Homo sapiens: one gene and its partners. The protein of the gene in region 1 interacts with the protein of each later gene in a pairwise test. Each region holds a gene or a part of one and is shown on either strand. Other genes may lie near its edges.

Region 1 (3,656 bases):
CTCAAGGTTCTAGCATGCTGTAGTTTATGTTAGAATTTCTTTCCTTTTAAAGGCTAAATAATACAATAGTATACATTTTTAAAGAAAAATAGTAATCTTTTGCTCACTCCACTACTCATCCCTCAATCTCACTTTCAAGAGGCAACAACCTTAATTATTTTAGCTGTTTCTTCTGGTTTTACTTCTATATTTCTGTGTTATAGGATACCACATTTTGCTTATCCATTGGACACTTGGGTTGCTCCCACATTTTAGCTATTGCGAATAATTCTGTGGACACGGGTATACACGTATCTCTTTGAGACCCTGCTTTTCAATTCTTCTGGCTGTATACCCACAAGTGGAATTGCTGGATCACATAGTCATTCTGTTTTTAGTATTTTGAGGCATCACCATACTGTTTTCCGTGGCAGCTGCATTTTACATTCCCTTCAACAGTGCACAAGGGTTCCAGTTTCTCCACATCCTTAACAACACTTTTATTTTCCTTTTTTTTTTATAGTGGCCATTATAATGGGTGTCAGGTGGTATCTTATTGTAGCTTTGATTTGCATGTCTGTAATGATGGTGATATTGTGCATTTTCATGTGCTTTTTGGCCATTTATGTATCTTTCAAGAAATGTATAGCCAAGTCTCTTGCCCATTTTTGAATTGGTTTGTTTTATTGTTGTTGAGTTTTAGGAGTTCTCTGTATATTCTGGATATAATCCCTTATCAGATATATGAATGTGCAAATATTTTCTCCCACTCTGTGGTTTGCCTTTTTTACTCTGTTGATAGTGTCTTTTGATGTACAACTTAACATTTTTTCATGAAATTCCAATTTGTTTATTTTTTGTTGTTGTTGCCTATGCCTTTGGTGTCATATCCAAGAAATCATTGCTAAACTTCATGCTGTGAAGGTTTTGCCCTGTGTTTTCCTTTAAGAATTTTATAGTTTTAGGTCTTACATTTAAGCCTGATCTCTTTTGAGTTAATTTTCGTATATGGTATTAGGTGAGTGTCCAGCTTTGTTCTTTTGTTTGTGGATATCCAGTTTTTCCCCACCATTTGTTGAAAAGCCTGTCCTTTCCCTCACTGAATGATCTTAGCACCCTTGTCAAAAAGTATTTGACCATGTATGTGAGGTTTTATTTCCAGGTTCTCTGTTCCAAGGTCTCCAACCCTCAGGCCGTGGACTAGCACCAGTCCACAGCCTGTTAGAAACCAGGTCGCACAGCGGGAGGTGAGCAGCAGGAGGTGAGCAGCAGGAATTCGAGCATTACAGCCTGAGCTCCACCTCCTGTCAGATCAGCAGTGGCATTAGATTCTCATAGGTGCAGGAACCCTACTGTGAACTGTGCATGTAAGGGATCTAGATTGCATGCTCCTTACGAGAATCTAATGCCTGATGATCTGAGGTGGAACAGTTTCATCCAGAAACCATTCCCCTGGCCTGTGGGAAAATTGTCTGCCATGAAACTGGTCCTGGCCAAAAAGGTTGTGACTGTTGATTTATTCCATTGGTCTAGATGTCTGTCTTTATGCCAGTATCACAGTTTTGATTACCGTAGCTATGTAATATGTCTTGGAATCAGGAAGAGTGAATTCTCCAGCTTTAATTATTTTGTAAGATTGTTTTGGCTATTTGGGGCCCTTGAGATTCCACGTGAATTTTAGAATGAGTTTTTCTATTTCTGATAAAAAAAAAAAATTGGGATTTTGAGAGGAATTGTAGTGAATCTGTAAATTTGTTTGGGTAGTATTGATATCTTAGCAATATTAAGTCTTTCTTTTCCCACATAGGCTGATGGGGAAAAAAAAAATTAAGTCTTCCAGTACATGAACATGAGCTGTGTTTCTATTTATTTATGTGTTCTTTAATATCTTTCAGCAATGTTTTATAGTTGTTATTGTACAGGTTTTCATTTTCGTGGTTAATTTTGAAATATTTTTTCTTTTTGATACTATTGTAAAAACTACATAATTTCCTTTTCATCATATTTATTATTAGTTTATAAAAATGCAATTGATTTTTGCGTGTTGACTTTGTATTCTGCTACTTTACTGAATTCATTTATTCTAACAGGTTTTTTGTGTGAAATCTTTAAGGTTTACTGTATATAAGAGCCTACCATCTGTGAACAGGAATAATTTTACTTCTTTCTTTTCTGTTTGTATGCCTTTTATTTCTTTTTCTTGCTTAGTTGCTCTGGCTAGAACTTACTCAAGCATTCTTATGGTGTAGAAATCAGATTGCTTCCGTGTGAATGGGAATAGATACAAATCTTATTTATTGATCCTGATTTTGTATTTTGATACTTTTCATATTTTTATAAAGGGACTTACTTTCCATTTAATGTAGCTTTTAAACTGATTTTCTAAGAAATAAACCTTTTATATTTAATTTTATTTCTAAAGTGGCACAGGGAGTTTGACATGCAGTTTTTTAGCTTTTATTTAATGCCCATCAATTGCTTACAATGTGACTAACAAATTTTTGCATTGCTGTGTTATAATTCTTACTGCCTAATGAAGTTATTTACAAATATATTTGAATTTCTTTATGAAATAAATTGGGAAGTAACATTTCATAGTTGATGTGGAAGATTGCTTTCTTTTCTTTCTTGGGAAAACCCTTTTTATTTTCAGTCATGTGAAAACACTTAAACATATCAGTGTGCTTTTTTACCTGTCTTACAGGATTGTACTGCAGCCTGTCTTGGTTAAATCGGAAGGTTTTGAGGGGTAGAGCTAGTTAGTGGGGTTAGTATGGCCTGACTAGTGGCAGGCAATGTGGCTATTTTTTTTTTTTTTTCAATTTTTTGCTTTTTGCTTTATTTATGTTTTAGCAAAACTGGTGATCCAAGCAAGTGGAGTATTGCATTTTATCTCTTTATTACGTTCACTTTGAAATAAGGATTGAGTGTTTGTTCATGTTTTATTATTTGTTTGTACAAAGTCCTATGAGTAGAATTATTGGATCAAGTAAAAAGAACGTTTTAGACTCTTGATAACATATTGCCAAATTATTTTAGTGCCAGTTTAAATTCCACAAGCAAAGTGAGAGAATGCTTGTCATATCTCATTACTTTTTGCCTTTACTGGGTGCTATTGAAAACAGATCTCTGTGATTTTTAGATGAAAACTTGTATCTTGCTTAAATTTTTATTTTTAAAATTAGTAACAGGAGCAAGTATTTTATTTTATTCGATTTTATTTGTTTTTTTTTGGAGGGGGGGGACAGAGTCTTGTTCTGTCGCCCAGGATGGAGGGCGGTGGCGCTGTCTCGGCTCACTGCGGCCTCCACTTCCCCGGGTTCAAGCAGTTCTCCTCTCTCAGCCTCCCGAGTAGCTGAGGCTACAGGCATGTGCCACCACACCGGGCTAATTTTGTATTTTTAGTAGAGATGGGGTTTCGTTACGTTGGCCAGGCTGGTCTTGAACTTCTGACCTGAGGTGATCCACCCGCCTTGGCCTCCCAAAGTGCTGGGATTACAGGTGTGATCCACTGCACCTGGCCAACAAGAGCAAGTATTTTAAATGCTTATTACCCGGTTGTCTGTCTTTTATGATTTTACTTTCATCTTTAGCCTTGTTTTTAAAGAGTTGATTTATCTGGTTAACGTATTTCCCTAATTTGTTTTCTAATTCCTCCTTTATCATGGCATTTGGAC
Region 2 (3,656 bases), on another chromosome or scaffold:
AGGCTATGCACACCTGAAGTCCCCAAACCTCTTCAGGGTGTCATCTGAAAACTTTGCACACAAGACCAGAGGAGATGGAATGACAGAATTTCCCACAAAATGACAGTAAACATTCCAGTCTGTCAAGCAGAGACAAAGAAGTATGGCGAGAGTGGCTGGATATGGGGCAGACAATGGATAGAGGTATCCTGAAAAAGAAGTCTGTAGCCCAACATCTGGTTCTGCCAACTCCCACAGGCTGCTAGCACTCACCGCAAAGCAGCCAATCACATCGTTCTCTGCAAACTTGTCTCCGTAGTTTTCAAACCGGCTATTGGTGGACTTCTTCCCAGTGCCTCCATAGCCATAGGAGAAAGGCTCTTCGCCTGACGGAAGAAATAGGCAAAGGCAGGTTAAACCTGCGATGGTCATAACAGCCTCAATGGCTGCCACATACTTTTATTTTTGAAGAAAAAAATCATTTTCTTTACTAGTTTTATTAATCAGATGCCTTTTTAAAATAGGGGTGGGGAAGGGTGAAAGGAAGCCCTTAATGATGTAGAACTTGGAGGGCTTGATGGGTTTCATTGTCCAGTCTGGGAGTAGGAGCTCAACTGAATAACTCTGCACAGAGGGGAGAATTTGAAAAGAAAGGGAGGAAGGAAGACAGGAGTTGGGATGGAGGAGAATGGCTGTATGCTGAGATGCAACCCTTCCTTGTGACACCCAATATTCAGTCCAGTCTACTTGTGGTAGAAATCAGTGAAGGGGCTGGATTTTGCTCCTGGAGACCATGAGGACTGACCCCTGGGAAAGGTACTAGATTTCCTCAGGCTACAGAACTGGGTGCTGAAGTGATATGACTGAGAGATCCCAAGGGCTCTGGCTGACACCTGAGTTAGAGATTCCGGGCAGAACCCAAAGAGTATGCTGTTAGAAAAGCAGGGGCCGACAAGCATGAATGCCAGGGCTCGTTCTGCTACAAACCAGCTATGTGACCCTGGATATGGTGCTTGACCTCCTGGGCTGTTTCCCCATCCCTATCAACTGCCACCACCTACATCTCAAAACGGAGACAGAGATAAGATGAGATGACTTATGAGTCTTAAATAAAAAGTGCTAACACATATGGAAATGAAAACTGTATACTTTTTTTTTTTGGTGCTAACATATCTACCTTTTTGAGGAGGTACCAATTTATGGGGTACATGTGCAATTCTGTTACATGCACAGATTGCATAGTGGTCAAGCTTTTAGGGTGTTCATCACCTAAAAAATGTACATCGTACCCATTAACCAATTTCTCATCCTCCTCCACCTTGTTACCCCCTAACACTTCTGAGTCTCCATTATCTATTATTCCACTCTCTAAGTCCATGTGAACATATTTTTTAAACAAACACTTGTGAGTGAGAATATCATCTATTTTTAAAGATTAGTCTTAAGTGGTCAGGCAATTATGGACCAGGATAATGGCTCAAGTGTTAAAACAGCAAAAATTTGCAATAAGTTTAAATGAGCTACAGAAGGGGACTTGTTAAATAATGCAACTATAAAATGGAAAATTATGCAGTAGTCAAAAAGCTGCAGTTATTTACAAAAATATGCCCATCATACATTAAAACAAGGCTATACAAAGTAGTCCTAGTGTGATCCAGTTTAAAGATGTACAAAAAAATAAATGTCCAGAAGACTACAAATGGAATGTTAACATTGGTTAGTTTCTCTCACAGGTTTAGGAAGGATTTTCATTTTTCCCTTTCTGTATGGCCTGAATTCTTATACGCAACACATATTATTTTCATAATTGGAACGTTTGTATGATCATAAACGGAAGGCAGGAGGTGTCAGCATTGGTCAGAATAATCAGTCACTTGGGACCAGAAGGTCATTGAAGCCTGGGGACCCGCAAAATTCAAAACCTTTCAATAGGCAGCCCCTGCCCCTCTCCCAACTAGCCCTGGCCTCACTGGTCTCTGCTCCCCTTTTTCCTCTAGGTTAGGCTCCGGACAGAAAATACAGACAGAACTTAATGGAGCTTGGGAACTTATCAGCAGCTTGGTTTAAGGGCAGGAGACACTGATCCTTTTTACAGAAAGGGAATAGATTCCTAAAGAGAATTTTGGACCCTCTCCTAAAAGATGAAGGATAAGAATTGATTCTTCACAGAAAAGTTGTTTCATGACCATAGTCCTCTCAGTTGAATACAGCATGACAGAGACAGTGGCATATACCTAATCCTTGTACCTGTTCCACTTCAGCCTAGTTCTATTCTAAGTCTGACGCTGGAAAAGGAAGCTTAGGAGCCTTGAAAATCCAAGGGTAGGGACAGTCACTCTATTCTCTGGACTGCATAGCTGACCCCTCCTTACCTAGCTGGGTGCTGCAGGAGTCCAGGGACCAGCCGATACGGACCACGTGGGGGTCAGGCTCTGTAGACGGAAGGTGCTTCACGGAGATTTCCTCATTGATCTGAGGAAAGAGGACAAAAGGGCTCAGGGTTGCTTCTCTGGAGGCCGTAGGTTATGAGCCAATATAGGAGGGAAGCATATCAGGCATTAAAAAATAGCAATGGCTTTTCTTGCTGGAGAAGAAGCGTTTAAGCAGCTCTGAAAAGCCTGTTGAACCGAATCGAAGCCAGGGCCTCCAAAGGGATCAGTAGAGTACAGGGCCACAGAGACAGGCATTTCAAAATACGGTTATGTTTTAGTTTAAGAGACTCTTGTAACATCTAGTAGAAAGATAAACTGTTACAGTGTCTTTAGAGGGCAATCTAGAAGTCTCTATCAAAACTGTAAATGGCTGGGGATGGTGACTCACACCTGTAATCCCAACACTTTGGGAGGCCAAGGCAGGAGGATGGCTTGAGGCCAGGAGTTAGGAACCAGCCTGGCCAACATAGCAAGACCCCATCTTTACAAAAACATTAAAAGAAAAAAACAACAAAACCCCATAAATGCACATGCTCTATAACTCAGCATCCTATAGATACACTAATATGTGGACAAGTATGTCTACGTATGTGTGACTGTATTTGTATATGCAACATTCTGTGCAGCATTGGATGTATATATGTGCACATATATATATATATATATATTTTAACATCAGAAAAAATATCAATAAAGCACTGATTATGGTATATCCATGCCACAAAATATGATGCAACAGTTAAAAAGAGCAAAGTAGGCCGGGCACGGTGGCTCAAGCCTGTAATCCCAGCACTTTGGGAGGCCAAGGTGGGTGGATCACCTGAGGTCAGGAGTTCGAGACCAGCCTGGCCAACATCATGAAACCCCGTCTCTACTAAAAATACAAAAAATTAGGCATGCGTGGCGTCATGCACCTGTAATCCCAGCTACTTGGGAGGCTGAGGCAGGAGAATCGCTTGAACCCAGGAGGGAGACGTTGCAGTAAGCAGAGATTGCGCCACTGTATTCTAGCTTGGGTAACAAGTGAAACTCCGTCAACAAAACAAAACAAACAAAACAAACAATCAAACAAACAAAAAACAAGGAGCAAAGCAGTACATTGGGCTAATGTACTGCTATGGAAAAATGTCCAAGATACAGTATTAAGTTAAAAAAAAAAAAAAAGCCTTCTGACTTAATTTCGTATTAAAAGACTAGACTGCCGAATATCCGTATCTACCTGTGGCCTCACTGGCTTTTCAGACA
Region 3 (3,656 bases), on another chromosome or scaffold:
ATATATATATATATCTGTTAACAAAACTTGACAATAGGCAGCATTAGTTACAAACAATCTAGGCAAAAACCTCCTGGTCAACTAGATCAAAGATCATCATTTGAAAACAGGGAGAAAGTGGAAAAAGGAAAGAATAGATCATAGATTTTAAATTGTGATTCATTAATTCGTTCAGCTAATACAGACAAGGTGCTTGCAATGTGGATGGAGATGTGCTAAGTGCCACAGGAGACATAAACATGAATTAAGTCAGATGAGACATGCACAACTATGGTATTATCAATTTTTTTTTAAATTGAAAAAAAGAAAAAGAATGAAGACAACCATTTTCCAGGTCCTATCCATCCTCATATGGTTACATACTCCCAGTCTTGATTCAGATTGACTTTGAACCCAAAGTTAGAGCATGTAAAAAGATTATATAATTGTTTTCTTACTTTTCTTTCCTACTGCCCAGCTGGCGAGCTGTATATTGATCCCCATAGTCAATTAATACCAGTTGTCGAGAAAAGACATTCACTTTGTTGCCTATAAATAAATCTTCCAAGTGCAGGTTATCATATTTGGTCCGCTTTAAAAAGGTGCGATGATTCTTTACATCATGCTAGAACCAGACACAACAATATAACAAACAAACAAAAAAAGTTATGAATAAGGAAAGTTAATCTCATCATAAGGTAGAAATAATTCTTAATTCTGTCTTATCAAAGATAGGTTATATTCTGTTTCTTTTTTGTTACAAATATAAATCATAATTTTTAATAACTTCCATATTTCCTAATCCAATCTGGTAATAACATAAAAGCTTCTTATTACAAATTTAATACTCTTAAAAACCTGAATAGAAAGATTTGTTTATTACCAAATCATTTCAGCAAAGTAGTCCTTACAAAATGCTAAAGAAAGAGTCATACACCCAAATTTCTGCTTTCTTGTGTACACAAAATCCCAATACCAAAAAGATCTACTTGTTAAAATTGTGTTGCCAGTGAAAGAACACAAAGAAACAGAAGTCTCTTAGCTTGAGCCTCTTCAATTTGACTTTTTGTAGCAATAACAGCTTTCAATAATGAGGACGTATTTATGACCATAATAATCCTTATCTATAATCACTTGTTTATTTCTTATCCAAAACATGAATAATCCCATTTCAGTCTTTTTTTTTTTTTTTTTTTTTTTTTTGAGACAAGAGTCTCATGCAGTCGCCCAGGCAGGACAGGCAGGAGTGCAGTGGCGTGATCTCAGCTCACTGCCACCTCCACCTCCTGAGTTCAAGCTATTCTCCTGCCTCAGCCTCCCGAGTAGCTGGGATTACAGGCATGTGCCACCACACCCGGCTAATTTTTTGTATCTTTAGTAGAGATGGGTTTTCACCATGTTGGCCAGGCTAGTCTCGAACTCCTGACTTCAAGTAATCTGCCTGGGTCGGCCTCCCAAAGTGCTGGGATTACAGGCATGAGGCACCGCGCCCAGCCCCCACTTCAGTCTTCTAACAACAACAACAAAAAATTCCTATTTTTGACATTAAAAATAAAGGCACAAGTTAACTTCTTATATTGGAATTATAATGAATAAGTTTAAAAAGAATTTCCATATGTATATATACACACACACATACATATAAATGTGTTTTTAAAAAGCAATTATATAAAAGGCAATGGTTCCCATGTTCACCCCCTTTGCCAACATTCAAGCAAAGAAAGGCTTATTTACCATTTCAACAGATCCATCCCCTGGGTAAAATAAAAGCTCATAACGTCGAAGAAGTGAAGCATTTGGATCATACCACTCTGCAATGAAAACGAATCTTTCACTATGATTCTGCAAAGAAAGACAGAAGAATTTTAACACTAACATATAAAGAACAAGCACTCTTCTGTAAGTCACACAAAATGAAATTACCAATATGCAAGAAACAAAATTACTTCTACCTATTATATTGAATGTTTCTGCTTTTCAACAAAGTATCAGTTATCAACACACCCTCAGCAATATTTCCTTTCAATTTCTCACTAAATACCCTTAGATATCTCAAAGATGACTTATGGATTGCTTTTTACTTTACAGCCATCTAATCATCCTGAGTAAATTAACGTTTTCTGAGAACATGAGCTCCTGATTTTACTATTGTAACAATTCAGTCCTTCTGAAAGCAAGTTTACATACAGACTATCAATAAACTAATATAAGAATAAATTTCTGAGGAGAGCTCTCAATTATATGAAGTTTTGACTTCCCTAAATTTGAGAATCTAGTAGTATCAGAATATTACCATTAAAATTATAGCAAACATTTTTTTTTCCTTAGTAATTTCATATGATAGTATCTTTTTATAGAAATAGAGAATGTGTTAGTCTAGGACCTCTGAAAATGAATGTGAAGACAAGATTGAACATACAAGAATTTCATTAAGGAAAATTCCCGTAATATAAAATGATGAGGGAGCCAAGGAAGACTAGAAAAGCCGATAAAAACAATAGAAGTTTGACACAGAGTGGTGGAGAGATGCAAGGAAGGTTAAGTGGAATCATCCCACATTGCTACACCCTCTAAGAAAGGTTCTGTAAGCCCATCAGGAAGTGCTAGAGCCAGGTGACTCCCAAGGACAGGGAGGGGCCAGCTTTAGTATCCCTGCTCCTCTCAATCAGTGGCTGGGAGCAGCCTTTGGGAAGCAAGTGCTCAGCACAAAAGCAGCAGTGGATTTCAGAGAACAGCAGCTGGGACCCTTGGTCACTTAGGTTGCCTGTAGTTGGAGGTCTGTGAAGTACACTCTTAGGGCTACCACAGAGAGCAAAAAATGAAAAAAATAAGTCAAAGATGGGTCCTTTTCCCTTGACTATTGAGCAGGACTTCCCATCATATATGTTAGTAAAAATACCCTCGCCCCAAAGATCTTCATTATAATAAGCAAATAAAAGCATAGGGAAGAAGGGAATCTAGGAGTTTTATTGCTAATTCTGGATTTGCCATCTGATGCTCTGGTTAGGGAAAATTTGGGGGTTCTTTTTAAGTTAATAATTGACTTATAAATTCTAATGGTAGAAGTTGTGTGTCTAATGATGTTTATAATATATCCATAAACTATAACGTAGATGACACTTTTATTTTTAAGACACTTTTATTTTTCCCACAATCATCCAAAGACATATTTAAACCATGCTGATTACTCAAGAGAAAATAAATGTAAAATAAGAGACATACTATGACATTTGTAAAAGCCTTTCATCATATATATTTTTCATATTGATTATAACAATACAGCTTTTTTGAGTTTAGGTTTCACTGTGCATTCTAGTATTGTACTCACCTACAAATAAAAATTTAAATATTAGTAGATTATTAAAATTTTTACTATCCATAATAAAATATTTATTTAAATACATAATTGAAATGTTGCCTTCACTAAAATAAATATAAAATAGAAGAAATGACACATCTAACTAAAGCAAATGAAAAATCCACGAAACCTGGTACTTCCATTTATCCATGTAGCCTATCCACCAAACCTGCCAACCACACTCTTTAATTCTGAATTGGGCAGCAGAATTTTGCACTATACTCTATCCAGAAAAGAGTTTTAATACAAAGAAAATAAACTGAGGAACTGTTGCTTCTGGCTATGACAAAGTAGCTCACAGCAAACCAATGCTACTTCT

What was found.
Region 2: the proteins of PIAS2 (region 1) and HNRNPUL1 interact in binary tests that used the Homo sapiens proteins (3 or more experiments, as listed by UniProt).
Region 3: the proteins of PIAS2 (region 1) and NME7 interact in binary tests that used the Homo sapiens proteins (3 or more experiments, as listed by UniProt).

Annotation. Positions count from the first base shown.
Region 1 is NC_000018.10:46,886,402-46,890,057, reverse strand, and holds part of PIAS2 (E3 SUMO-protein ligase PIAS2), read left to right. Parts: intron 1-3,656. UniProt on the Homo sapiens protein: Functions as an E3-type small ubiquitin-like modifier (SUMO) ligase, stabilizing the interaction between UBE2I and the substrate, and as a SUMO-tethering factor.
Region 2 is NC_000019.10:41,277,872-41,281,527, reverse strand, and holds part of HNRNPUL1 (heterogeneous nuclear ribonucleoprotein U-like protein 1), read right to left. Parts: intron 2,452-3,656; coding exon 2,352-2,451; intron 366-2,351; coding exon 253-365; intron 1-252.
Region 3 is NC_000001.11:169,322,680-169,326,335, forward strand, and holds part of NME7 (nucleoside diphosphate kinase homolog 7), read right to left. Parts: intron 1,822-3,656; coding exon 1,714-1,821; intron 605-1,713; coding exon 438-604; intron 1-437. UniProt on the Homo sapiens protein: Possesses an intrinsic kinase activity. Displays 3'-5' exonuclease activity with a preference for single-stranded DNA. Does not seem to have nucleoside diphosphate kinase activity.